Linked DNA regions of Homo sapiens: regions 2 and 3 are each linked to region 1. The links come from fine-mapping of genetic effects on gene expression. A gene starts in region 1. Each other region holds a variant in brackets. All regions are shown on one strand. Distances are from middle to middle.

Region 1 (5,000 bases):
ATTGAAATTCTTGTTCTTTTATTTATTTATTTTTGTTCCAAAATAAAGATTTTTTTTTTCCCCAGGATTTCACCTTTATTAAAAACATCATTTTTAGAGTTGACATATCATGGCGCTATTCTTTTTTTTTTTTGAGGTAGAGTCCCGCTCTGTCACCCAGGCTGGAGTGCAGTAGGGCAACCTCAGCTCACTGCAACCTCTGCCTCCTGGGTTCAAGCGATTCTCCTGCCTCTCAGCCTCCCAAGTAGCTGGGACTCCAGGTGTGCACTAACACGCCTGGCTAACACTATTCTTTAATAAAACAAAAAAGAAAGAACTCTGTAAATTTTCCCCACGATTGGTTTGGTGATATTAAAAAGTTAACCTCCATAAAAACCATTAGCAAGGGGAGGAGTTGAAGTCTTTCAGGAATTTGTATAGTGATTCACTATTGTGTGACTACATTGAGTGATTAACCAACAACTCTATTCAGTACCTGCTGTGTGCAAAGCAGTCTGAGACAGATGGCACAAGAGACTTTTAATCAAATAGGGAAGACAAAACTAATGATAACTTACAGTGAGATAGCGTTTTAGTTGAGGAAACAAACTATTATGAAGAGAAAAACAAAAGTCATTTTGTTCCCCCACAAAAGTACCCTATGACCATTCTATCTGTCAGGGGAAAGCCTTAGCTGACAGCTTTCTGCCCTTCACTTGACACCTCTGCTTCAATACCAGAGCATTTCCACTTTGGTGTTTTGTATATAGACAATCTTCCTATGTTTTTGTTTTTGTTTTTTTTTTGTAGAGATGGGGTCTTGCCATGTTGCCCAGGCTGGTCTTGAACTCCTGGGCTCAAGCGATCCACCTACCTCGGCCTCCCAAAGTATTGGGATTACAGGCGTGAGCCACCATGTCCAGCCCCTAAAATTTTATTTGAAAAAAAAAAAAAAGTTCTGTTGCATTTTTAAAAGTTACAAGTACTGTATAATATATACTATTCTCATATAATTAGTAAAGGATAAATAAATGTATCAATGGAAAAAGAAACCCAAATTAAGAGGAATAAAGTTTGTGATAGCTATATCTCCAGACCCAAGCCCCCAATCCATTGTGTAGTTGGACGAGACTACATTTCCCAGACTCTCCCCTTTTATCTTTTTATGTGTTTTTAAATTTTTTTTTTATTTTTTGTAAATCTGGCCTTACTGAAATACCCCCTTTTATCTTGATGAGGCCTCATTCTTAGTAATGATATGGTAGAGAAAATGCTGTGTGTCATTTCTGGGCTCATGTGGTTAAAAGTAGGTGTGACTTTTTTTTTTTTTTTTTTTTTTTTGTCCAAGCAGGCTGCCTGGATTTGTAAATAAAATTTCACTAGAACATAACCATGCCCATTTATTTTCAAGTATTGTCTGTGGAGCAACAGCTGCAGAGGCAGAGTTAAATAGTTGAGACAGACCTTATGGCTCACAAAGCCTAAAACACTATGTGGCCCTTTACAGAAAATGTTTCTTGACCCCTGTTCTAAGGTATGGAAGGAGACTGGGTCCACTGACATTATGACACCTGCATTATTAAAGTGTTATATGAGCCAGAAAGAAATTACTCTTGTGTTAAGCCCCTGAAAATTTTAGTTACAGACGGTAGTAACATACTACTATCTGTTGAACACACCATACTTGGAAGGTGGTCCAAAGATTTACATATTTATTAAAAGCGTACGTATATTTGGGAGACGAATAGTCATTGAACTGGATGTCATAGCTTAGGGTCTTGTTCGGAGATTCTGGAAGAAAATTTCAATTCTTAAAAGTAAACAGATGAAACATCAAGAAATTTAAAAGAGGTTATTCAGGCAAATCACTTATCTTAAGAAATAAAGTCAAGAAAAATACTTCGTGAGGTTGAAAAGGAATTTCTGCAAAGAAGGAAGCCACTGGTAAAGTACACTTTCAAGAACATGGTGGGGAAGAGACTGGATTAAAGTAGTAAGGGATGCATCTTCTAAGAGGAATAAAAGACCTTGATCACATGATCTACCTAAAAAACAAGTCACAAAATATTACTTACCCTTACTGTGTGGGATGCAAATTTTTATTCCCTTCCCGCCCCCGACATTCTATAATATTGCGTAATTATTATGCATGTGTTTTACGCTGGTCACCACGCGGTAAACCGAATCCACAACCCATTATTATGTCGCAACCTATGGTTTAAAAATACACTTCCTTACAGAGGAATCATATACTAGTTGAGCTGGAACTTAGATTTTCAGTCATTAGCCAAATTCTGAAAAGAATCCATATAACAAACCCAGCAGAGTTTATAGCCATGGTTTTGTTTTTGACGTTTGTTGCTCCTTCCTTCTGTAGTCTTTCATCCACATCTATGTAGAACGTCCTGACAATCTGCGAAGAGAAGGCTCTAAGGTGGTTTTATTTGTGGGGAAAGGAGGGAGGTACATGCGGTTTCTCCACCTTAATAGCTGGATCAATTAGGCTGGCCCCGGAGCGCAAAGGGATCCGGGTTTCTGAGAGGCACGTGCCAGCACCATTCGCCCGATACCTCTAGACCAAAGCCGGCCTCCCCTCCAGCCGAGCTCCTCCGTCCTAAAGGACTCGACATCCCCCTCCTCCAGGCCCACACCCCTCAGCCCCGGAGCCCAGGCCCCGCCTCTCCCTGCGGAACCCCTTCCCAACCTGTACGACCAGGCCCCAACTCTGGGTCGAAGCACCTCGCCCCTGCCGGCCGAGGCCCCCCACCTTCTTCCGAACAGCCCCTTGCCCCCCGCGAAGGGGCAGCCGTAGCTCCCAGCCGAGCTCCCCCGCTCCTGGCCCCGGTCCCCGACCCCGCCCCAGGCCCCCGACCCCGCCCCTGCCGGCCGAAGACCCCGCCCCTGCCGGCCGAGGACCCCGCCCCTGCCGGCCGAGGACCCCGCCCCTGCCGGCCGAGGACCCCGCCCCTGCCGGCCGAGGACCCCGCCCCTGCCGGTGGCTGCGGTAGCTGCTGCGCGCTGAGGCGCCTGCTCAGTGTGGGACGCGGAGAGCGAGGGGCGGCGGCGGCGCCCGCTGGCGCTCAAGCATGGCGGCGGCGGCATTGGGCAGCTCCTCAGGCTCGGCGTCCCCGGCCGTGGCTGAGCTCTGCCAGAACACCCCGGAGACCTTTTTGGAGGCCTCCAAGCTGCTGCTCACCTATGCTGACAACATCCTCAGGTGCAGGGCAACGGGGTCGGACGGCGGGTACCGGGGTGGGTGGGCCGCGGCACCTTGTTCGGCCAGGGACTGGGGCGTCCGGCCTGAGCTTCAGAGGGCAGCGACGCCCGGACAGACCGGGACCTGGAGCTGGTTCTGCTCCTAACGTCCGAGCCCGCCGGCCAGGGGCCTCGGGACCCGGCCAAGTCCCACCCCCGCTCGAGAAAAGGAAGTTTCTTTGCAGTTGTGACTTGGCACCTGCAGTCAGGGTGCTGCGGGTGAACTGGAGTCCCGGAAGCGGGGCCGGGCGGAGGAGAGGTAGGAAGGCGTGCTTCAGACACTGCCGCTCTTCTCGTCGTTTAACGGCCTCAGATATCGGGACACAACGGTAACCGCACCGCGCGTGTCATTCCCCCTGCGTGCATTTTTCGAGCGGAGTGGCTTACATTTCCACATACTTATCAGAAGTTACTCACTGACAAAGTGATGTTTTCTTCCCATGTTGAGACTATCCGAGTACTAAAGCATAATGCTTCTGAAGTGGTGGGTTTTAAAATTTTTAATTTTTTTTCTGCCCACTTTTGTTGATTGAAACATTATAGTATTTTGAAGTTACAGTTTTTATATTAATACCTGGATTCTACTATGTAACATAACCCTTTAAGAATTCGTGGAGGTAATCGCCTTGGATGAGAGTAATTTCCTTCATTCTCCTGTCAGCAAAATTGCACTTCTAGAGGTCTAAGGGACCTTGCAGATTTTGGGAATTGGGAGGCAAGTTTGATTATTCATTTTGAATAAGTACCCACCTCAACTCTTCAGATCAAATGATCTGAAGGGACATGGTGTGGGGGGGTAGGGAAATGGAACTGAGGTTAAAGGAGAGCCACTTGCTTTAGGGGTGTTACCTCATTTATCAGGTCACCGTGATTAATTAGGTTCTCTGTTCCCCTCAGCCCCTGGTGCATTAAGTGTTTGGTATATTGTCATGAAGTCTAAAAGGAAATTCTCAGTTTCAAGGTTATAGGTTTCACGTGACCCAATTTTAGACATTAGTTACATGTGCAGTTTTTAAAATCCATGTCAGTAATATTTCATTTAGGCAATGGTAATGATTTTTAAAGTAAATTGAAGGGAAAATATATTGAGCCCTTATTTTGTGGCAGATGCTATGAAAGATGCAACATGTGGCCTGTTCACAGCTACATAATTGTGACCTGTGTGGGGACCACCTTCGTGCTCTGTGACACCTTCTCAACTCACCTTTTTTACTCTTTGAGGCCTTACAGCTCTTCACAGTACAAGGATGCCAAGGGACTCCATAAATGAACTGATAGGCTGGGTTCTCCAGAGCCCATTAGCTGAGACTTACCACCTGGAAAGCCACCAGGCTATTTAAAACCCCACTAGTCAGAAAAGAGAGGTGGCCTTGTAATGAAGCCTCACTTCTGCTTTAAATCTAGTGAAACCCAAAATGCTGAGGTTTAGTATGAGGGGGAAACCTTTGCATGCAAATAATGACATTTAGCATCATAATCTTCATTATGAATGTTTACTAATGGCTCGTTGCTGATTTTCGTTTTTGAGACGGAGTTTGCTCTTGTTGATGAGGCTGGAGTGCAGTGGCGCGATCTTGACTCACTGCAACCTCCGCCTCACAGCTTCAAGATTCTGAAAGATGAGGGGTGTGACAATGAGCGCAAAGGATAGTGGACACACTGGAATAATGCTGAGAAATTAAGAGTTTAAGAAAGTCTTTGTGCGTTGCTTTTCCAAGGATAGGAAAGAGGATATGATGGGTTTGAAGTCTAATGTCCCTACAGCC
Region 2 (10,904 bases), 350 kb before region 1:
CAGGAATTCAAGATGAGATTTGGATGGGGACACAGCCAAACCGTATCAGTGCCCAAATTTCTTCCAAAATGATTGATGTTGTTTTCTTTTTTAACATCTTTATTAAGGTACATTTGACAAATAAAAATTGCATATATTTAAGTGTACAACTTGATGCTTTGATATATGTATATATTGTGAAATGATTACTACATCCAAGCTAATTAACATATCCAATATCTCACAAAATTAACATTTTCTGTGTGTGTGTCTGTGTGTGTGTGTAAAACACTTAATATCTACCTTCTTTGCAAATTTCAAGTGTCAAACTGTTCACCTTGTGAAACTGGAACTTCATACCCTTTGACCAACATCATCTCATTTTCCCTTCCTTCCAGGCCTTAATAACTACCACTCTACCCTCTGCTTCTATGAGTTTGACTATTTCCTATTCTGAATATATGTAAGATCATGCAATATTTGTCTTTCTGTGTTTGGCTTATTTTACTTAGTATATTGTCCTCCAGATTCATCCATTTTGTCAAAAGTTGCAAGATTTCCTTATTTTTAAGGCTGAATAATCTTCCATTGTATGTATACGTGTGTGTGTGTGTGTATGTATATATACCATGTTCTATTTCATTAGTCTATACATCTGTTTTTGGTTTGTTTTTGCCACTACCGTACTGTTTTGATTACTGTAGCTTTGTAATATATTTCAAAATCAGGAAATATATGCCTCCACCATCATTCTTCTTGCTCAAAACTGCTTTGGCTATTTGGGGTCTTTTGTAGTGTCATGCAAATTGTAGAATTATTTTTCCATTTCTGAAAAGAAAGCCACTGTGATTTTAATAGGGATTACACTGAATCTGTAGATCACTTTGGGTAAAGTGATGGTTAATATCGCATGTCAACTTGATTGGATTGAAAGATGTGAAGTATTGTTCCTGGGTGTGTCTGTGAGGATGTTGCCAAAGGAGATTAACATTTGACTCTGTTAAATCTCCTTGGACTGGGAAAGCTCCAGCTCCAGGAAGGTGCAGCAAGATGGAGTTTAGGTGGCTTCAACAGCTGGGATCTAATCAGCAAAGACTGCAGGGGTCCTGGATGGTTAAGGCCATGGGTCCACAGCCAGCAGCAAGGACTGCCAGGATTATTAACGGCAAAGGCTACTGGGATTCCTCCTGCTCGCCTTTTCCCCCACAACGGGAACTCAAAGCCAAGGGGATTTTTCTCGGTGCTTAGCTCTGCCAGCCTGGAGGATGGAGTGACATGGGTAAAATGAACCTCTTTTCCTACTCTTTTCTATGAGTTATGAAACTGGAGCTTGCCTTTATCATATCAGCCTTTCCTTTTCCCTTGTTATACTAGAAGAGGTCTGGATATGATATCTTGAGATTTTATGCACTATGACTTTTTTTTCACAAGTAGAGGCTAAAATTCTCAGCAAATATTAATTTTTGATATAGTGAAGAGAAATTGCTCAATATAGCAGTATTGTCAAATGGCTAGGAGCTTGGCTCTGCACTTGGCCTCCATGGGTTCAAATCTGTATTATCTTACTTCTTAGCAGTGAAAGATTATTTCATCCTTCTTGCCTTCGTATTTTTATCTGTAAAATAGGGATCACATTATTGTCTTTTGGGCTCATTGAGAGCATCGAATGAAAATGCTTATAGGCCAGGCATGGTGGCTCATGCCTGTAATCCCAGCACTTTGGGAGGCTGAGGCAGGTGGATCATGAGGTTAGGAGTTCAAGACCAGCCTGGCCAATATAGTGAAACCGCATCTCTACTAAAAATACAAAAATTAGCTGGGCGTGGTGGTGCGTGCCTATAGTTCCAGCTGCTCGGGAGCCTGAGGCAGGAGAATCACTTGAATCCACGAGGCAGAGGTTGAAGTGAGCCAAGATTGCACCACTGCACTCCAGCCTGGGTGACAGAGTGAGACTCTGTTTCAAAAAAAAAAAAAAAAAAAGAGAAAGAGAAGAAAAAAAAGAAAATGCTTGTAAAATCTTATCATAATGGATGGCACATAACACGTGCTTGTATTAGTCCATTTTGATACTGCTATAAAAAAAATACCCAAGACTGGATAATTTATAAAGAAAAGAGGTTTAATTGACTCACAGTTCCAAATGGCTGGGGAGGCCTCGGGGAACTGACAATTATGGCAGAAGGTGAAGGAGAAGCAAAGGCATGTCTTACATGACGGCAGACCAGAGACAGCAAACAAAGGAGGAGCTGCCAAATACTGTTAAAACCCTCAGCTCTCGAAGGAACTCCCTCACTACCATGAGAACAGCATGGGAGAAACTGCCCCTATGATCCAATCACCTCCTACCAGGTACCTCCCTCAATATGTGGGGATTACAATTCGAAATGAGATTTTGGTTGAGATACAGAGCCAAACCATATCAGTGCTCAATAATTGTTTTTAAATTATGAAGTGGGTGTTCTGTGTATTTTGTGAGGTGCCTTAAACACATGAGCATAGAACAGAGAATTTGAAAACAGAAATTGAGTTTTCTCCATTACTAAATACTAAGAAAATTGTGTTAGGATTAGAAGGGCAAGGTGGGGAAGAGGGTGAATGCAAGAGTGAAACCTGACCTCAAGTTAGCTCAGCCAGATGCAGTATGGGCTTATTGTCACCCATCATCATCAACAAGTACCCCAAGTGTTCCTTGAGGGGTATATGTTACCCACAAAATAGAAACATGGAAACACCACTCCAAAAACGCACAAATGTCTTTACAGTGCTAGAAACAAATTCAGTGGAATGCAGTCCACCACAAGGGAAGTCTGTAACACTCAGTTCATTCTCCTTTCCAGATTAATCAAGGAGTCTTGCAACCAGTAACAGCTTCCTTAAAAGAGTGCAAGATTCCACATTTTACTTACTTCCATCCATGAAGTCATTCTTCCAAGTTTGGCACCAGGGGCAGGGGTGGAAGGGGATTTATTCTAAACTTTCCTAATGAAAGAGAAGAGAGATAAATTTTGCATTAACATTAAAGACAAAATAAACATTAAAGACTATAAGGGTAAATTGTTATGTAGCAATCCAATATTATGAGTCATATTTAAGTTTCTTTGCTATTTCAACTGAATCATTTTATTTATTTATATATATATATACATACACACACACACATATTCCTTAACTTAACTACCTTGTCTAAGCAATTGATAGACACAAGGACTTCAGTAGAAGTTGCTATACCTTTTGCCTCATCTACAAAGAAATGATTCATTTATATAATTTTTGTTCTTTAATGGAGACCAATACATTATCAAGCCACTCCTATTAGGACAGAATGTTTTTAATATGAAGACTAGCTAATGACACAGCAGGAAACAACAAAAGACAAGTTCTTTTTTTTGCTCTGTTTCCATTTATATTTCTCACGCTAATGTTTAAATCCACCAAATTACCTTTATTACAGGCTTTTTTGAATCTGATAAACTGTATTCTCCTGTGTTACACCAGAGCTTGCAAACCAAGGCTATCAATTATTTCCAAGAGATAATAATATTGCTGATAATAATAGACTTTAATTTGACAAATAATTAGCTTTACATCCAGAAATGGGTAATATAGCACTACATTAAAAGGAAAATATTCTTCTGTGGATATTAGCGGTATTTCTTTAGTCACATGCAACAACACGCATATCATTAATTTTATTATTCCTTCAAGAGAGAGTGTCTCAATTATTAAAAAAACCTTTAAGCTAAGAATTTGCCTACCTAACTGATAATTTTAAACTGAAACTATTTTCCCACAGGTTAAGGTAAGAAGTCCTAAAAATCAATCTTCTTTATAACCTTTGGTACCCTTTATGACCTTGATCCTGCCTATCTTTTTAGTCTTGTATCTTTCATTTCTTCTCCTTGTGTTTCCTGCATTGCCATTTTAGGTTCCTCAGACAAGTAATTGTTCCCTTCCATTGTGAAGATTGTGCACACACTCCTCCCTCTACCTGAAGCACTTGCTTCCGCCACAAATCCTTCCCCTATCCTGCAAAACATTAGCTCTGGCTTTATGCCCTTACATAACTTTATATGTCTACATAGTATAAATATCTATTTGTATAGTTATTTTATTGTCTATCTTTCTCATAACTCTGACAGTTCTATGGGAAAATGAGTCTCGTCTGTTTATCTTATTATTGTAGACCCAGCATCTAACATGGTGCTTGATACACATAACAGAAGATCAATAAATACTTGTTGAATAAATATATGGCTTCATTTTCTATAAAAGTGATCGACAGTCTGGCATTTTCCCAGATTGGGAGCTGATCAACACTATGCTAGATATATTAGCCTTAGCAAAAAAAAAAAAAAAAAAAAAAAAGGAACAGGCTACAAATTGATATTTATTAAGTCTATGAAGTAATTTATCATATGCTTACTGCTTTCACTCCCCTGATAAGTTTATCTTTTGTGTAATGATGTAAATTTGGGAGGGGGACCATGGGGTCAGAATTCTATGCATCCTATTTCAAGTGGTGTACTAATATAATTAGCTATTCTGCAGGCCATTAACTTCTGTAATGATGTCTACAATAAAGCAGAATATGAAGTTGAAATGGGAAGAAAAGAATCAGTTTACATACTCACTGATACTCTGAATACTATTTTGACTCCGAGGAACTCTTAGTGCAAAATTTAACAGAGAATCTCCAGAAGACAGTCTGCCCTCAGCAACTATCCATCCAACCCTGTGGCTCCTGAAGTCTCTTTGACAAGTAGTAAAAGTTGTCAATCTGTGATCTACCATTTTTGGTAGACCTGCCTCCTCATGCAAGAGCAGGAAGCATAAAAAGCTTTCATTAAGCTCATATCATCCAAAAACACATACAAACTTTTTCCCATTGTCTTAAAATAGCTGTCAAACTCCTCTGCAGTTCTTTTCTTCTACCACAAAATGAAATTATAGCTACTAACCTTAAAGGAATGTTTCTAATGTACAATGAATCAAAAGAGCTGAGAAACCATGTACATGTGTTATTACAGAAATGTCTAAAATGATTAAGAAGGAATTTGTTTCAGCTTCACAAATCTTCACAGCTTTCCAACATCAAGGAAAAGTTAGGAAAAAATAAAATACTTCATGACATTTCTCAGAAAATAAAATAGAACATAAATTTAAAAGAAATAAAAGAGTGTTGCCAAGAAAAATGTAGAGCAAAAGATTTAAAATAGAACTCCTGAAACTTAAAAACAAATCTTTTGTATGCCTTGGTAACAGTAATGATGATATTCAAAAATGACTAATTATAGAGCCAGTACTCAAATAATGTGAGTACCAAACAAAGCATTCAGGGGTAATGTCACGTATTAATGGAGGCACAACTTAATCTGGGATAGAATGTTTCTTTTTAAGAGTAAAGTTCTATAGGAATATCAATTTCATGTCTCATCAAGACAATTGTCCTCTC[CTCT/T]TTTTATTCTTAGCTTTATTTATTGTAAACAATGCCAAAATGAAGCAGCACACTAGTAAATGTTGTTTTCATTTTTTTGTTGTTGAATTTGTTGTCTTCTCCTGGCTAATACATAATTTAGTTCAAATCTTCACACAAACTTAATTTGTAGGGATGTATGCTTTTTCAAATACACAGTTTTGGTTCTCTCTTTGTCTGAATTGAATACTTTGGCAACATCCTTGGGAAATTTAGTCTTTGGTTTGAGATGCTGACCTACAGTACAAATCAGGCCAGTAAACCATTGGCTACTGGTTTGTATTCACCTAAGGAAGCAGAATCATCATCAATCACAAAGAATTCTTCATTTTCTTGAAACAAGTTATGCAAGCAAGAATATTCCTGTTTTGCATGTGACAAGATTCACACTGAACTCAGCATTCCTAAACCTAGGATATAGACTGTTGGTCAGCTTCCTACTTTGCACTTAAATTCAACTTTCTCCCACCTGATCATAATCAAGCTCTCCCTAAACACAGAGATAGATCTTGATTCCCAGGCTAAGAGCCAGCCTTTCTTCTTGGCCAAGTCTTTTTCTCTTTGGTGAGAGGTTCTTGAACTCTAAACCCATCTGCTTAGAGTTCTTGGGAAGAGAGGAAAAAGAATAAGGAAGACCTTCAGCCTGAAAGGTAATACCACAAGAAGGTAACTCAAATCCATAAGAAAAAATAAAGAACACTGAAATGGCAATTATGCAGGTTAATATAAAACTCTAAAAGCATTTTTTTACATTTCTTCCCTTAATTTATTTAAAAGACATAAGACTGTATAAAGCAATAATTATACAATCTATTATTAAGTTGATAACATATATAAAAATATGTAACAATAATAGCACAAAGGAGTGGGAGAGAATAGAGCTATATTGAAGCAAAATTTCTGTATTTTACAAATATTAAGCTAGTATTATTCTAGAGGAAATTGTCATCAATTAAAATGCATTTTATAATTTCCTAGATTGACCATTGAGAGAATAACTCAAAAACTAGTTTTAAAAATCAAAAGAGCAATTAAAGTAGCATACTAAAAGTATTGTCTTAACAGAAAAGAAGCAATAAAGGAATAGAGAAATAAACAAATAGAAAATTCAACAGTGAAAGTTGGAGGACTCAATACCAAAGATTCAATAATTGATAGAACCACTATATTAAAAAAAATCAGTAAAGATATACAAGACTTGAACAATACTATCAACCAACTCAAACTAATTTAGGTAGAATGGTCCACTCATTGAATGCAGAATGCATGCTCTTTTTAAGTGCACGTGGAATATTTTTCAGGATGAGATCATATGGTAAGCCATAAAACAAATCTCAACACACTTAAAAATATTGAATTCATACAGTGTATTTTCAACCAAAATGGAATTTAGAAATAAACAACTAAAAGGAATATGGGAAATCCTTAAGTACTTGGAAATTAAACAATACACTTCTAAATTCTAAAAATGAAACTAAAAGTTTTTGAAAAGATCAACAAAATTGGCAAATCTTTAACCAGACTAACCAATAAAAAGAGAGTGAGACAGACAAAGACAAAGGAGGCACAAGTTGCCAAATTCAAGTCACAGAAGAAACCACAGGGTAAATTAGGAAAGGCTTTGCATGAATGAAAACAAACAGAAAAACCCCACAATATATCAAAATTTATGATGTACAGCTAAGCAGTGTTTAGAAAGACATTTACAGCTTTAAAGGCATATATTGGAAAAGAAGAAAGGTCTCAAATCAATAACCTATGCTTCTACCTTAAGAGCATAGTAAAAGAAGAGCAAACTAACCCCAAAGCAAACAGAGGATAGAAATAAAGGTTAGAGCACAAATCAATGAACTACAAAACAAAAACAAAAGGAAAATAAGGCAATAAAACTAAAAGTTGTTTCTTTCAAAATATCAACAAAATTGGCAAATATTTAACTGAACTAACCAAAGGAAAACATGAAAACATAATTTATCAAATTCAGGAATGAAAGTGGAAATATTACAACCAATGCTACAGAAATGAAAACATTATAAGGGAATTTATAAACAACTATGCCAAAAAATAAGACAAATGAGATGAAATGGACAATTTCTAGAAACAAGATTTGAATAGACCTCACACACACACACACACACACACACACACACACACACAAACGATCACTATGCATATAAAAACATGTTTAGCATCATTAGCCATTAGGAAAACACAAATTAAAACTACGATAAGATACCATTATGTACTCACTAGAATGACTATAATCAAAAAGAAAGGTGTTTCAAAGTGTAGGAAAAGATGTGAAGGACCCAGGGTCTTCATTTACTGCTGGTGGGAAGGTAAATAATACAGCCATTTTGCAAAATATAGTTTCTCATGAAATTAAATATACACTTAACATTTGGCCCAGCAATTTTATTTCTTGGAATCCACCCAAAAGAAACAAAAATACATGTCCACACAAAGATTTGTAAGTGAATGTTTATAGCAGTATCATCCATGATAGCCCAAAATTGCAAAGCATCCAAATCTGCATTAAATGGCAAATAAATGAACAAAATGTGATATATGCATACAATGGAGCACTATCGAACAAAAAAAAGAAATGAAGTCTTGATACATACTATGGCATTTTCAACCTTAAAAGTGTCATACTAATTAAAAGAGACCTTATTCAAAACACTACATATTGTATGATTCTACATATACAAAATATCCAGAAACAGTAAATTTATATACAGAGAAAGCAGGCCAGTGGTTTCCTAGAGCTGGGTGTGAGATAGGGGATTATCTTCAAATGGGAAGGAGATAACATTTTGGCGTTCTGTAAATGTTCTAAAACTAGATTGTGGTGATTGCTGCACAAATGTAAATTTTACTTTAAAAAAATCACTGAATTGTATACTTATAATGGGTGAATTTTATGGTATCTAAATTATACCCCAGTAAAGCTGGGATTTTTTAACGGTTAATAATTATATGAAAGGAAAATACGAATGGCTCTGTTTGGATGAAAATGCTTGATATCTAATAAAAATAGAAATTCAAATTAAAAGTATAATGAGATACAGTTTTTACAACTCAGGTTTGCTAAGATTAAAAAGTTTGTAACACACCTAATTGATAATAATATGGGCATCCTTATTAATGTCTGGGAGGAATATATGTTGGCATTTTCTCAATGAGAAGCAGTTTTGCTTTATCTATTGAAAATTAAGATTGCATGTTTCTTGATTCGGTAATTACTTTCCTACTCCCACTGACACTAAGTGATAAATTTAAATCATTTTTGCTATAAGCAAAATATTGCAAACAATCTAAAAGTTCATCAATAAAAGACTAAGATAGATTATGATATAACCAATGAATGAAATCTGATGCAGATGTAAAAATATACAGCTCCAAAACTGTCTCTATTTGCAGAGGATATGATCTTACACATAGAAAACCCTAAATATTACCTGCATACACACAACCTGTTAGAACTAATAAATGACTTCCGTAAAGTAGCAGGATATAAAGCCAATACAAATAAAATCAGTTGCATTTCTGTACTCTTAACAATAAACAATCAGAAAAAAATTACAAAAATTTTTATTTACAATAGCATCAAAAAATACTAAGGAATAAAAACTACGATACAAAGAAGGTAAAAGACTTGTACAATGAAAACAACAAAACATTGCTGAAAGAAATTTTAAAAGACATAGATGAATGGAAATACATATCATGTTCATGAATTGGAAGAATTAACATTGTTAAAATGTCATAATAACCAAAGTGATCTACAGAATCAATGCAATGGCTATCAAAATCCCAGTGACATTTTTGCAAAGATAGAAAAACTCATCCTAAAATTCACATGGCATCTCAAGCAACCCCAAATATCAAAAATGATCTTGTAAAAGAAGAGGGATGTTAATAATGAGGGAGACTACACATGTGTGGGGCAAGGGGTACATGGGAAATGTCTTGTATCTTCCCCTCAATTTTGTTGTGTAACTAAAACTGATCTAAAAAGTAAAGTTAATTTTAAAAAATAACAAACTACTATGCTGAAGTACTCACATTTCTTGATTTCAGAATTTACTATAAATCTATTACAAAGTAAGGTCCATTCCAAGATATCCAAATAGGAATAGCTCCAGTTTGCAGCTCCCAGCGTGACTGATGCAGAAGATGGGTGATTTCTGCATTTCCAACTGAGGAACCTAGTTCATCTCATTGGGACTGGTTGGACAGTGGGTGCAGCCCATAGAGGGTGAGACGAAGCAGAGCGGGGTGTCACCTCACCCAGGAAGTGCCTTTCCTAGCCAAGGGAAACCATGACAGACTGTACCTGGAAAAATGGGACACTGTCGCCCAAATACTGAGCTGTTCCCAAGGTCTTAGCAACCGGCAGACAAGAAGATTCTCTCCTGTGCCTGGCTCAGTGGGTCCCATGCCCAGGGAGCCTTGCTCACTGCTAGCGCAGCAGTCTGAGATCGAACTGTGAGGCAGCAGCCTGGCTAGGGGAGGGCGTCTGCCATTGCTGAGGCTTGAGTCAGTAAACAAAGCAGCCGGGAAGCTCGAACTGGGCAGAACCCACCACAGCTCAGCGAGGCCTACTGCCTCTATAGACTCCACTTCTGTGAGCAGGGCATAGCTAAACAAAAGGCAGTAGACAACTTCTGCACACCTAAATGTCCCTGTCTGACAGCTCTGAAGAGAGCACTGGTTCTCCCACCACAGTGTCTGAGCTCGGGGAATGGACAGACTGCCTCTCCAAGTGGCTTCCTGACCCCCGTGTAGCCTAACTGGCAGACACCTCCCAGTAGGGGCTGACAGACACCTCACATAGGCAGGTGCCCCTCTGGGATGAAGTTTCCAGAGGAAGGTTCAGGCAGCAATATTTGCTGTTCTGCAGCCTCCACTGGTGATACCCAGGCAAACCGGGTCTGGAGTGGACCTCCAGCAAAACCCAACAGAACTGCAGCTGAGGGACCTGACTGTTAGAAGGAAAACTATCAAACAGAAAGGAATAGCATCAACATCAACAAAAAGGATATCTATACCAAAGCTCCATCTGTAGGTCACCAACATCAAAGACCAAAGGTAGATAAAACCACAAAGACGGGGAGAAACCAGAGCAGAAAAGCTGAAAATTCTAAAAACCAGAGCACCTCTTCTCCTCCAAAGGACTGCAACTCCTCACGAGCAACAGAACAAAGCTGGACGGAGAATGACTTTGACGAGTTGACAGAAGTAGGCTTCAGAATGTCAGTAATAACAAACTGCTCCAAGCTAAAGGAGCGTGTTCAAACCCATCACAAGGAAGCTAAAAGCCTTGAAAAAAGGTTAGACGAATGGCTAACTAGAATAAATAGTGTAGAGAAGACCTTAAATGACCTGATGGAGCTGAAAACCATGACATGAGAACTTTGTGGTGCATGCACAAACTTCAATAGCTGAT
Region 3 (10,245 bases), 40 kb after region 1:
TGTGCTTATTGGTCATTTGAATATCTTCTTTGGAGAAATGTTTATTCAAGTCTTTTGAACATTCTTTTTAAAAACTTTTTTTTTTTACCTGAATACGCATTTGCAGTTTAATCATTGGTATGTGTATATTTTTAGGTAAAGTAGAACTTTAGCCCACAGAATATATGATAGCGTCATTAGTGAATTTAAATTAGTGAATTTTAATGTGAATCTAACAGAAACCATATTCAGAATTAATCCATATGAATAGACCATTGACTCACTTTTATGAGTAGAGAGACATTATTTATTGATTAAGAGTAGGTTTTGGAGTCAACTGTCTTTGTGTAAATTCAGCTCTGCTACTTCCTGTGCATCACTGAGCAAGTAATTTAATCTCTATGACTCAGTTTCTTCATGTAGAAATAAGAATGATAATTTTTAGAAATAAATGAAAAAATACATGTAAAAGCTGGGCATGATGTACTGGATAATAGGAACTGAGGTAAACAGGCCTTTCATGTAAGGTTTTATGCTAATCTAGCTAGGAATTAATCTAACTAGAGTTGTTTTCTTGTTTGCTTTAGCCGTAGGTATCAGAGGCTTCAAATTCCTCCAGTGTTCTTGTCGTCTCCCCCATTGTCTTTAGGCTTCCCTAAGAACTCCTCATTAGAGTCTGCATTTATCCTGCTTGGTGTTCGTTTAGTTGTAATCCATTGTTATTATACTGGAGCCCTATTGGTGTGATGGTAAGGTATCAAGGAGAAGGTTCTATAATCTTTTGATTAAATCTCAGTATTTTAGTGGGCCTATATCTCTGGGCCTGTGCCTTTCACAAGTGTTTGTTAGCCTTTTTACCCCCATAGGTGAGACAGGAAGGCTACAAGGGGCTGGAGTCAGGGAAATATATGTCCTTCCCCCAGTTCAGAGAAGACTCTGGTAAAATCTTTTTCCCTGGAGAGGCCTTAATTGTGAAGAACACTCTGGGTATACCTCACAATTCTTACTCTTCCCATCTTTTCTAGAGCCACAAAGGATTTTTCTTGGTTCTTCATTGTGAAAACCTGGTGGGCTTCCTGCAGACAAAATGCACAGAAGTGTGGGGACCTCTCCCAAGACTGAATTTCTTACTCCCAAGCTAGTCCATACTCAGCTTCCAGCAGTTTGTCAAAATTGCTATTTAAATGTCCTTACCAGTTTATGGCTCTAGTGACTTCTTTTCCATGTAAGCAGATTTTGACTGTGATTCTCTATATTTGTGTATCTTTTTGGACTTTGGGGTGATAATTCACTCTGTGACCTCAGTTCTCTAATGGGTCCAAGAAAAGTCACTGATTTCAGTTGAGCTTTTTATTGTTTTAAAGGTGAGAGTATTGACCTCTGCTTGCTAGAAACTGGAAGATGAAACCAGAAATCCATCTGAAGGCTTAACTATATGTGTCTCTTCCTTTTTTAACCATTTGACCAATTTTCACAAATGTCATTTATATATTTTGCTACCCTTTGTATTTTGGTAATTTTTGTCTTTTTAAAAATATTACACTATGCCATTTTTCAATTTTTGATGACTGGCTTGGGCCTTAGATTTACTTCTGCTACAGGCCTGCTAACCTTAAGACAGTTGTTCTCTTCTTGTATTAACAGTTTTTTTCCTGTGTGTACAATAAGAATGTTTATTAATATGTGATTATACAGGCCCTGTCCAGCTTCAAAGTACTGTGGTCCTTTATATGATGACTTATAGAAATGCCTGTTTATCAGGTACTTACTGAACATGTTTTGTGTTTGAGTCATTGGGCTGGGCCCTGCAGGGGAGAGACAGGATAATAATATAGCCTTGCCTTAAGAAGCAGCTAAATAGAAGATGAGAATTCAAATATACAGATCAACTGAGTGTAAAGCAGAGTCCAACAAATGTAATGTATGAAGTATAATTTTTAAAACATTATGTTGTAGACCAGCTTGGCCAACATGGTGAAACCCCGTCTGTACTAAAAATGCAAAAATTAGCCGGGCTAATTTGCAGTTGCAGATGCCCATAATCCCAGCTACTCGGGAGTCTGAAGCAGGAGAATCGCTTGAAACCGGAAGGCGGAGGTTGCAGTGAGTAGAGATTGCACCACTGCACTGCAGCCTGGGCAAAAGAGCGAAACTCCGTCTCAAAAAATAAAAAATAAAACCATTATGTTGCTAAATGAATAAACTTCAGTGAGAAATAGCATAGAGACAGAATGTTCCTGTTTGTGTCCATCATATTTCCTCTCTCTAGGCAAATAACAACCAGGAAATTGCTCAAGGAGCAAAAATCTACAATAAAGAGCATTAGTTAGGTGAACATTATGTTTATCCTGATGCATTTGTCCATCTGTCCTCACAGTGGGAATGGTCTTATCAGTGGACCAAGAATCCTTCAAGTCTATTAGCTAAGACTTAAAGTCCATTTCCCATAAAAATCTGCTGATGTTCCCTGCTAACATTTGCTCCAGCATTTTTTCTTTCTAATTATAAAGGTAATACAGGGGTTGTAGAAAATTTGGAAAATAGGGAGAAGACAAACTATCAATAACTTCATCACATTGGAGTATGTGTATTTAAGATCTGTGTATATATTCTTTCACGCTTAAAAAGTTTTAATTAAAATAGGAAAGAAATGACACAGCAGATTAGTAGTGAAAATTATGAAAATCAGTAAAAGATTTTTTTTTAAGGGCATGAAGGATGAGTGGGATTTATAAAATATGTCAAAATACATACTAAGGGATTGGGGATTTTCTTCCAAGTGTAGTGATCAACATGCATAGAGGCAGAGAAGGACAGGCTCTATTTGGGAACAATGAATAATACAGTTAGACTGTGTGTAGGGTAGGGTGTATATAAAGCAGTGGAAGATCAAGTAGGCTGAAACCATATTTTGGTTGACATTGAATTTCAGACAGAGCAGTGTATACCAAGTTCATTTTTAATGTTTTCAAAAAAATTAGTAAAATGAAACAAAGCATATTTCTAATAAGGTTTGAAATAGTAAAGACCAAAGAAATTCAAAGGAAACACGTCTTGGCCGAAAGACTAATGTTATATTGTGACTATAATTGAACATACAGCAGAAATGTTACATAACCTTATTCATCAGAAAGCAGAAAATAATTTCTCAGGTGTTCTCGAATAGGTAATTCAGCAGGATTGACTATTGAAACTCTGAGTGACATCAGACTGTATTTAAGGAAGATTAATCTAGTAATAACTTGTGAAATGAATTAAAATCAAAAGAGTACAAGGAGAGAAAAATTAAAACACAATAGTAATCTAATTTACATAAGAGGGATAAGAGGGTGAACAGAGGGTTGAGATTACAAGGGAGAAGATGGATGTGAAAGTTGTTGGGGTTATAGAATATGTGGAATTTGCAGTCAATAGGATAAGGCATCATGTATATATAAGGAAGATGTCAAAGATGACTGGGTAACTTTGAATCTAGGCAACTAGGAAATTAAAGGAGTCAGTAGAAACAGGTTTTAAAGGGAAAGGAAGAGTGAGTTGAGGTGCCTACTATCTGGACTGCCAAGTGAAAACATAGGCCTGGAAATTCGATAAGAAGTCAAGCCTTGAAATACACTTCAGGATGATAGGTAAAGCCATGCAGGTAAATGAGATTGCTAAAATTGAGAGGACAGGGTGGAGAGGTAGGATTACAGAGGTTCTAGAAAACAGTGTAGCACTAGCCACATATGGATATTTACATTTAAATTAAATGAGATGAAAAATCAAGTTCTTCAGTCACACTCAGCACATTTCAGCTACTCAATAACCACAAGTTAGTGACAACCCTACTGGACAGTAGGAATAGGAATTATTTCCATTATTGCTGAAAATTCTATTGGATGGCGATATTTTAGAAACAGCAGGATATGGGAAGAGGAAGAGTAACAAGTGAAGGAAACTTATATAGTGAAATAAGTGGTATGGTAGGCATAATGAGTATATCAATTAGGATTAGGTTGTGCTATGAGTAAAATGACTGGTGGCTTAGAGATTATTTTCTCATGTAAGAAATTATGGAAGTAGTCAGTCTGGAGCTAATGGTGAGCTATCATCAAAGACCTAGGTGCCTTCTGTCTTTTCGGCTCGGATGTATATGTTTTCCATCCTTCACATCACCTTGTAGTCCAAAATGGCTGCTGCAGCTCCAGCCATTACATTTCCAGACCAAACATCAGGAAGAAGAAACAGAGAAAAGGCATAAAGGTTTTATCTCTAATTTGAGCTTCTTCTCTTGAAGTAGTCTTCCTTGGAGTAACATGAAGCTTAGTCATTTAGCCACACTTAGCCGCAAGGGAAGTTGGGATCTGTAGTTTTTTAACTGGTGCATTGTCATCCCTCCAAAATTGAAATTCTATAAATGAGGAAGAAGTAGCAAGTGGATATTATATGGCCACCATCAGTCTCTGCCCCAGTGAGTGAATGGCACTGAGATGATGACGAAGCCCCCGCTGGCCAAGTTGGTGATTTTCTTTCATTAGTGCAGTGCACTGTTTTTTCCTTTCCAGACAAAAATCATATTCTGGGTCTATGGACTGGGGAAAGTGTTTTGGTTTGATGCAGAAATGGGGACCTTGTGGCACTGCCAAATGAGATAGAGAAGCATGATTTGATAGCTTTGGCCTGGTAGACTGAAGGTTTGTCATGATTGCATGTTCCAGATACAGGTAAAACATCTTTTTGGAGGAGGAAGAACCCATTTTTGAAAAGTGGTAACAAAATATATCTTGGCCTACTAAATTGTATGTGAAGATATGAGATGGAGAACATGGATGAGGCTACCTCTACTGATGTTTTTACCCATTTTCTCATTCTCTTGTATATTGAAGTGGTTTTCAGAGAATGGAGTTAGGTCTAAACTTGTTGATTTTATTTTGTCACTGATAAGTTACTAGAAATCTACGTTTATATGGTATTTTTGAAGATGGTAACTTTAGAAATTTGAAGTCTTAATTATATTTTTGAAATAAACCCAGTATTCACAGAATTTAGCATCTAAATCAGGCTTCCCTTATCTCTGAGATTTCTGAGCTTTCATCATACAGGAATCTACTTTTATTTCTCTGAGCCCCTAGTTAAGGATATTGTTTAAATGAGGAACATTGACCCTTAATTGGGTGTTACTGTTTAGTAGTCCTACTTTCAGCTGGATTATACCTGGAGTATGTAACAGAAGTACAAATACTCTGTTTTCCTTTCCTTTCTTCTTGGTCTTGATAATGACTATTTGGTGAACAATTACAATTCTAAGTAATATTTTGAGGCATGTTTGTTCAGTCCTTTCATCATTCAAATATTTATTAAGCATCTAGTGTATAGCAAGCAGAACACTAAGTGTTGGGGATATAGCAGTGAACAAAACTAAGTACCTACCATTATGGAAAGAGACACACACACACACTAGTGAAAAGTGCTAGGAAGACCAATGGGAGAACAGAGTGAGTGACGACTAGTAAGATGCTGTTTGATACAAGATTTTCAGGGATGGCTTCTCTAAAAAGCAATGATTTCCCTTTTAGGTAGAAGGCATGAGCAACTGCAAAGGCCTCCTGAGGTGGGAGTGAGGTTGGCAAGTTTAAGAGATGGCAGGGAGAGCATGGTGGCTGTAGCCAGTGAACAAGACAGGAGGAGATAGGGTTTGAGGTCAGAGAGGGAAGAGGGTATTTAAGTTTCCTGGGGCTACTATAACAAATTACCACAAACTTGGTGAAATAAAAAGAAATTTATTCTTACAGTTCCAGAAGGCAGAAATCCAAAATCATTATCACAGCGGGAAATCGAAGTATCCCCAGAGCCATGCTTCTTTTGGAGGGGAGAATCTGTTCTTTGCCTCTTCCAGCTTTTGGTTGCTGCTGGCAGTCCTTGGTTTGTGGCTGCAACAGTCTGGTCTTAAGGCCAGCATCTTCAAATCTCTCTCTGTCCCATCTTCACATTGCCTTCTCTGTGTGTAAAATCTCCATTTACTTGCTTTTTATGAGGTTAATTGTGATTGAATTTATCCACATATTCCAGGATAATCTCCCCATCTAGAGATCCTTAACTTTATAATATCTGCAAAGACCTTTTTTTTTTTTTTTTTTTTTTTTTTGCCACATAAGGTAACTACATTCATAGGCTACAGTGATTAGGACATGGATATCCTCTGAGGGCCATTTTTTAGCCTACGACGGGGAGCCAGCTGAAAGAACAAGAGTTGGGACTTTGAATTTTATTTTGAATGAGATGGAAACCCATTGGAGGGTTTTTTAAGTCACATAATCTGGCCTGTACTTTTAAGAAGATTACTCTAGCTGCTGCATGGTAGGCACTAGACTGAGAAGGAGAATGACAGTCCTCTGTTTCTAAAACTTTGTTTTTAATGTAACTAATTCATGAATATCTTCCTGTTGGAAAGCTTTCATATTATATGGGAAACGCCAAACTCTCCCTGCCATTCAGTTCTGTTCTTTTTCATGTCTTGTCCTGGATATTTATACCTTAAATAATTATCTATAAAAATAGTTTAAGTTGTGTGGGGTTTATTTAAAATTTATCATCTCATATATATTCAGCTCCTTGGTGTTTTTCATTTACAAATATGTATTGGACAGCTTTTTAACTCCATAGTGTTTGATTGTACATACACTATTATTTATACAATTCCCTATTGATGGACATAGAGGTTGTTTCCATTTTCTCTGTTCTAAATGCCACCACAGTGGAGATTCTTGTAAACCATGTCTCCTGGCACACATGCACAAGTATTTCTCTTGGATAGATACTGAAATGTCAAGTGTGTGTAATACTTTTATATTATAATGGATCCTGCCAAATTGCCTTCCAATTTATACTAGAAGTGTCTAAGAATATTTGTTTCCACTTAATGAAAGTATTGAATTTCTTTTATGGACTTTGTGAATTTTTCTAGTGGGTTTCTTAATGTTCTTACTGATTTATAGAAGTTCTTTATGTATTTAGAAATTTATCTTTTTGAGACAGAGTTTTGCTGTTGTCGCCCAGATTGGAGTGCAGTGGCGCGATCTCGGCTCACTGCAACCTCCGCCTCCCAGGTTCAAGTGATTCTCCTGCCTCAGCTTCCTGAGTAGCTGGGATTACAGGTACCTGCCACCACGCC[C/T]GGCTAATTTTTTTTTTCTTTTGTATTTTTAGTAGAGACGGGGTTTCACCATGTTGGGCAGGCTGTTCTCCAACTCCTGACCTCAAGTGATCCTCCCACCTCAGCCTCCTAAAGTGCTGGGATTATAGGCGTGAGCCACCGTGCCCGTCCAGAAATTTATCTTTTCTTTGTTAGACATGTTACAAATTTTTCCTCCCAGAGTTCTTTAGTGTAGCTTTTGAAATTCAAAAGTTTTTATTTTTAACATAAGAAAATTTAATTTTTTTATTATTGATTTTACAGTTTGTATCTTGCTTGCCTAAGACCTTCCTAACCCAAAGTCATAAACATAAACATACTCACCTATAAACTTCTATTATTTTATATTATTCCAGAGAAAGTTTTTTTTTAATGAACTATAGTAGGGATCTGATAGATAGCTATTTGTCCTAATATCATTTATTGAAACAGTCCATCCTGTTAGAGCTGCTTTAAAATGCTAACTTTATTAAATACTGTGCATTTGCTTAGAAATCTGTCTTTCAGAATTCTTTTGTTTCATTGATCTGTTTATTCTTCACTAATACCACATTGTTTTAAATATTAGAGTTTTATAATATGTCTTGATACACGGTAGGCAAATTTACCTTATGATTCTTGCTCAAAGTTGTGTTGGCTATTTTGTGCATTTTCTCTTTCACATGGGATTTTGTAGTTAGCTTGTCAATTTTTTTTTTTTTTTTTTTTTTAATGAGACAGAGTTTCGCTCTGTCACTCAGGCTGGAGTGCAATGGCATGATCTTGGCTCACTGCAACCTCTGCATCCCAGGTTCAGGTGATTCTCCCGCCTCAGCCTCCCAAGTAGCTGGGATCACAGGCACCTACCACCAAACCCAGAAAATTTTTGTAGTTTTTAGTAGAGACGAAGTTTCACCATGTTGGCCAGGCTGGTCTCGAACTCCTGACCTCAGATGATCTGCCTACCTTGGCCTCCCAAAGTGCTGGGATTAGAGCTGTGAGCCGCCACACCTGGCTAGCTTGTCAAATTTTATGAAAAAATATTTTATAATTTTAATTGGGATTATATTAAATTATAGATTAATTTGTGGAAGGTTATCAGCTTTAGAAATATTGAGTTTTCCCTCCAGGAACATAAATATTTCTGGCCTTTTTACATTCTCTGTAGTTTTTTTTTCTGTAGTTTTTTATTTTGAAATACATCAAACATAAATACAAGAACAAAGTATAATATATCATATACCTATGACCAACATCAAGCTTTATTAGATTTTATCATTATGCTATATATGTCCTTCATATTTATGTTTTATTATCACTCTGTTTTAATCATAAAACATTAAAGATAGAGATGAGAACCCCCTATATATGTTTTTAAGATTGATTTTCCCTCTCCTTCCCTTCTTGCCAGAGATACCATGGTCTTGAATATGAACAAGAGAGATCTGTTTATGGAAAAGTGGGTATATTATCTGTCATGTTATAACTTACTAGGGTTGTTATATATACTAGAGATATGGTTGTGTTTTTATGTGTTTGGGGATGAGTATCCATGGATGGATTATATTGTACAGTTGAAGCCCTAATAGAAAGGCTAATAGGATGATTTTTTAAATGTCTGGAATTCTGTGATTTCTGCCTTTTGTGATTGTTTCATGTTTACTTGTGTATATACCTGATAACAAATTCAATGTTTCCCATTTTTAAATGTTTTTCAAAATCAAATTTATTTTTCTACCTCCCTTGTACTTCAGGATCAATTCCTAACTGACTATAGTTCCCTAAGAGGTCATTGTGTTCAGCTCACTTGTTAATGCATAATGTCAGTTAGAGGATATAAAATGGTAAATGTTCTACTGTTTTTAATGTGCAGTTATACTTGTCATTGTATTTCAGCCTAGTGCCTAATAAATGACAGTTTCTTCTTGCCTCTTATTAGTGAAAACCTTAAAATCATCTTATGTTTTCATATTTTTCAGGTTCGTATTTGAGAATAAATATGTTTGGATAGTTTAAATTTTGTCAGTTTTAGCTCTTACTTGGTCCTCCCTTAATTTCTCAGGTATCAATATAAGTGATGAGGATTTTCTTTTGCTGGAGCTTTTGCACTGGTTTAAGGAAGAATTTTTTCACTGGGTGAATAACGTTTTGTGCAGCAAATGTGGTGGACAGACTAGGTCTAGAGATAGATCATTACTGCCCAGTGATGATGAGCTGAAGTGGGGTGCAAAGGAAGTGGAAGATCATTACTGTGATGCCTGCCAGTTCAGCAATCGATTCCCAAGGTGGGTGCCCTGGATGGTAAAATCAGAATAATCTCTTAATGAAATAGTTAGAAGAGAGTTTTTACTAAATGAACTTTTTAATATTTAATTATCAGAAATATATTCCTCTAAAATACCGGTGAGCAAACCGTGGCTGGCAGGCTAAATCCAGCCGACATCCTGTTTTTGTAAGTAAAGTTTTATTAGAACATAACCATGCTGATTTATTTGCTTATGGTCTGTTTTTATGCTGCAACAAGCAGAGTTGAATAATGGTGACAGAAATGATATGACCCACAAAGTCTGAAATATTCACCATCTGTCTTTTATAGGAAATTTGTTGACTCTTGTTCTAAAGTATAACTTGAGTATAGTCATAACATGTTTAATGCTATAAATCTTGTATTACTTTTTTAATTCCTAATTTTTAACTGTCTGATAGCTAACAATACTTATAATAATGCTGAGGTATACTTTTACCTTCCATATTATCATCGGATGATTATTTTAAACACATAATTGTATTCACTCTCACAATAATCAGCATTATTATTATCAGTCTTATTAGCAGAAGTTTGTTTTAGTTAGGTGCTTCCCCTGCCCAACCTAACCTACTCCTCATATCTCTAAATTTTAAACTAAGGACATTTTAAATTTTAAATTAATTTCCATTCTTTAATTTATAAGCCTGTTTTCAGATTTTCTGAATTGGCAATGTTTATAAAGTCTGGTTGTATTATCAGTCAAGGAAAGATACCACGTTTTAAAAATATCTAATTTTTTTTAGCTTAGGACATAGTTTCTAATCATGTGCTTGTTTTAACCTCTAGCTCTTCTCTATATGGGGAGGCTGAG

What was found. PIP is the estimated chance that this variant, and not a neighbour inherited with it, causes the effect.
Region 2: its variant is the best candidate, but not a certain one, in a credible set for the expression of NGLY1 in whole blood (INTERVAL, PIP 0.71).
Region 3: its variant is the best candidate, but not a certain one, in a credible set for the expression of NGLY1 in whole blood (TOPMed, PIP 0.86).

The regions. Positions count from the first base shown.
Region 1 is chr3:25,781,456-25,786,455 of GRCh38, reverse strand. It overlaps NGLY1 (N-glycanase 1), which reads left to right and starts at 3,013. Exons shown (of 12, transcript NM_018297.4): 1 at 3,013-3,196. The coding sequence starts at 3,066. RefSeq lists a silencer at 2,824-3,063 and enhancers at 3,374-3,423, 3,584-3,663.
Region 2 is chr3:26,129,279-26,140,182 of GRCh38, reverse strand. No RefSeq gene overlaps it. Among named protein-coding and RNA genes, the nearest start is that of LINC00692, 260 kb to the right of the region's middle. The variant CTCT/T (reference allele first, on the strand shown) is at 5,432.
Region 3 is chr3:25,738,743-25,748,987 of GRCh38, reverse strand. NGLY1 (N-glycanase 1) reads left to right here. Exons shown (of 12, transcript NM_018297.4): 5 at 9,189-9,411. Among named protein-coding and RNA genes, the nearest start is that of NGLY1, 40 kb to the left of the region's middle. The variant C/T (reference allele first, on the strand shown) is at 7,130.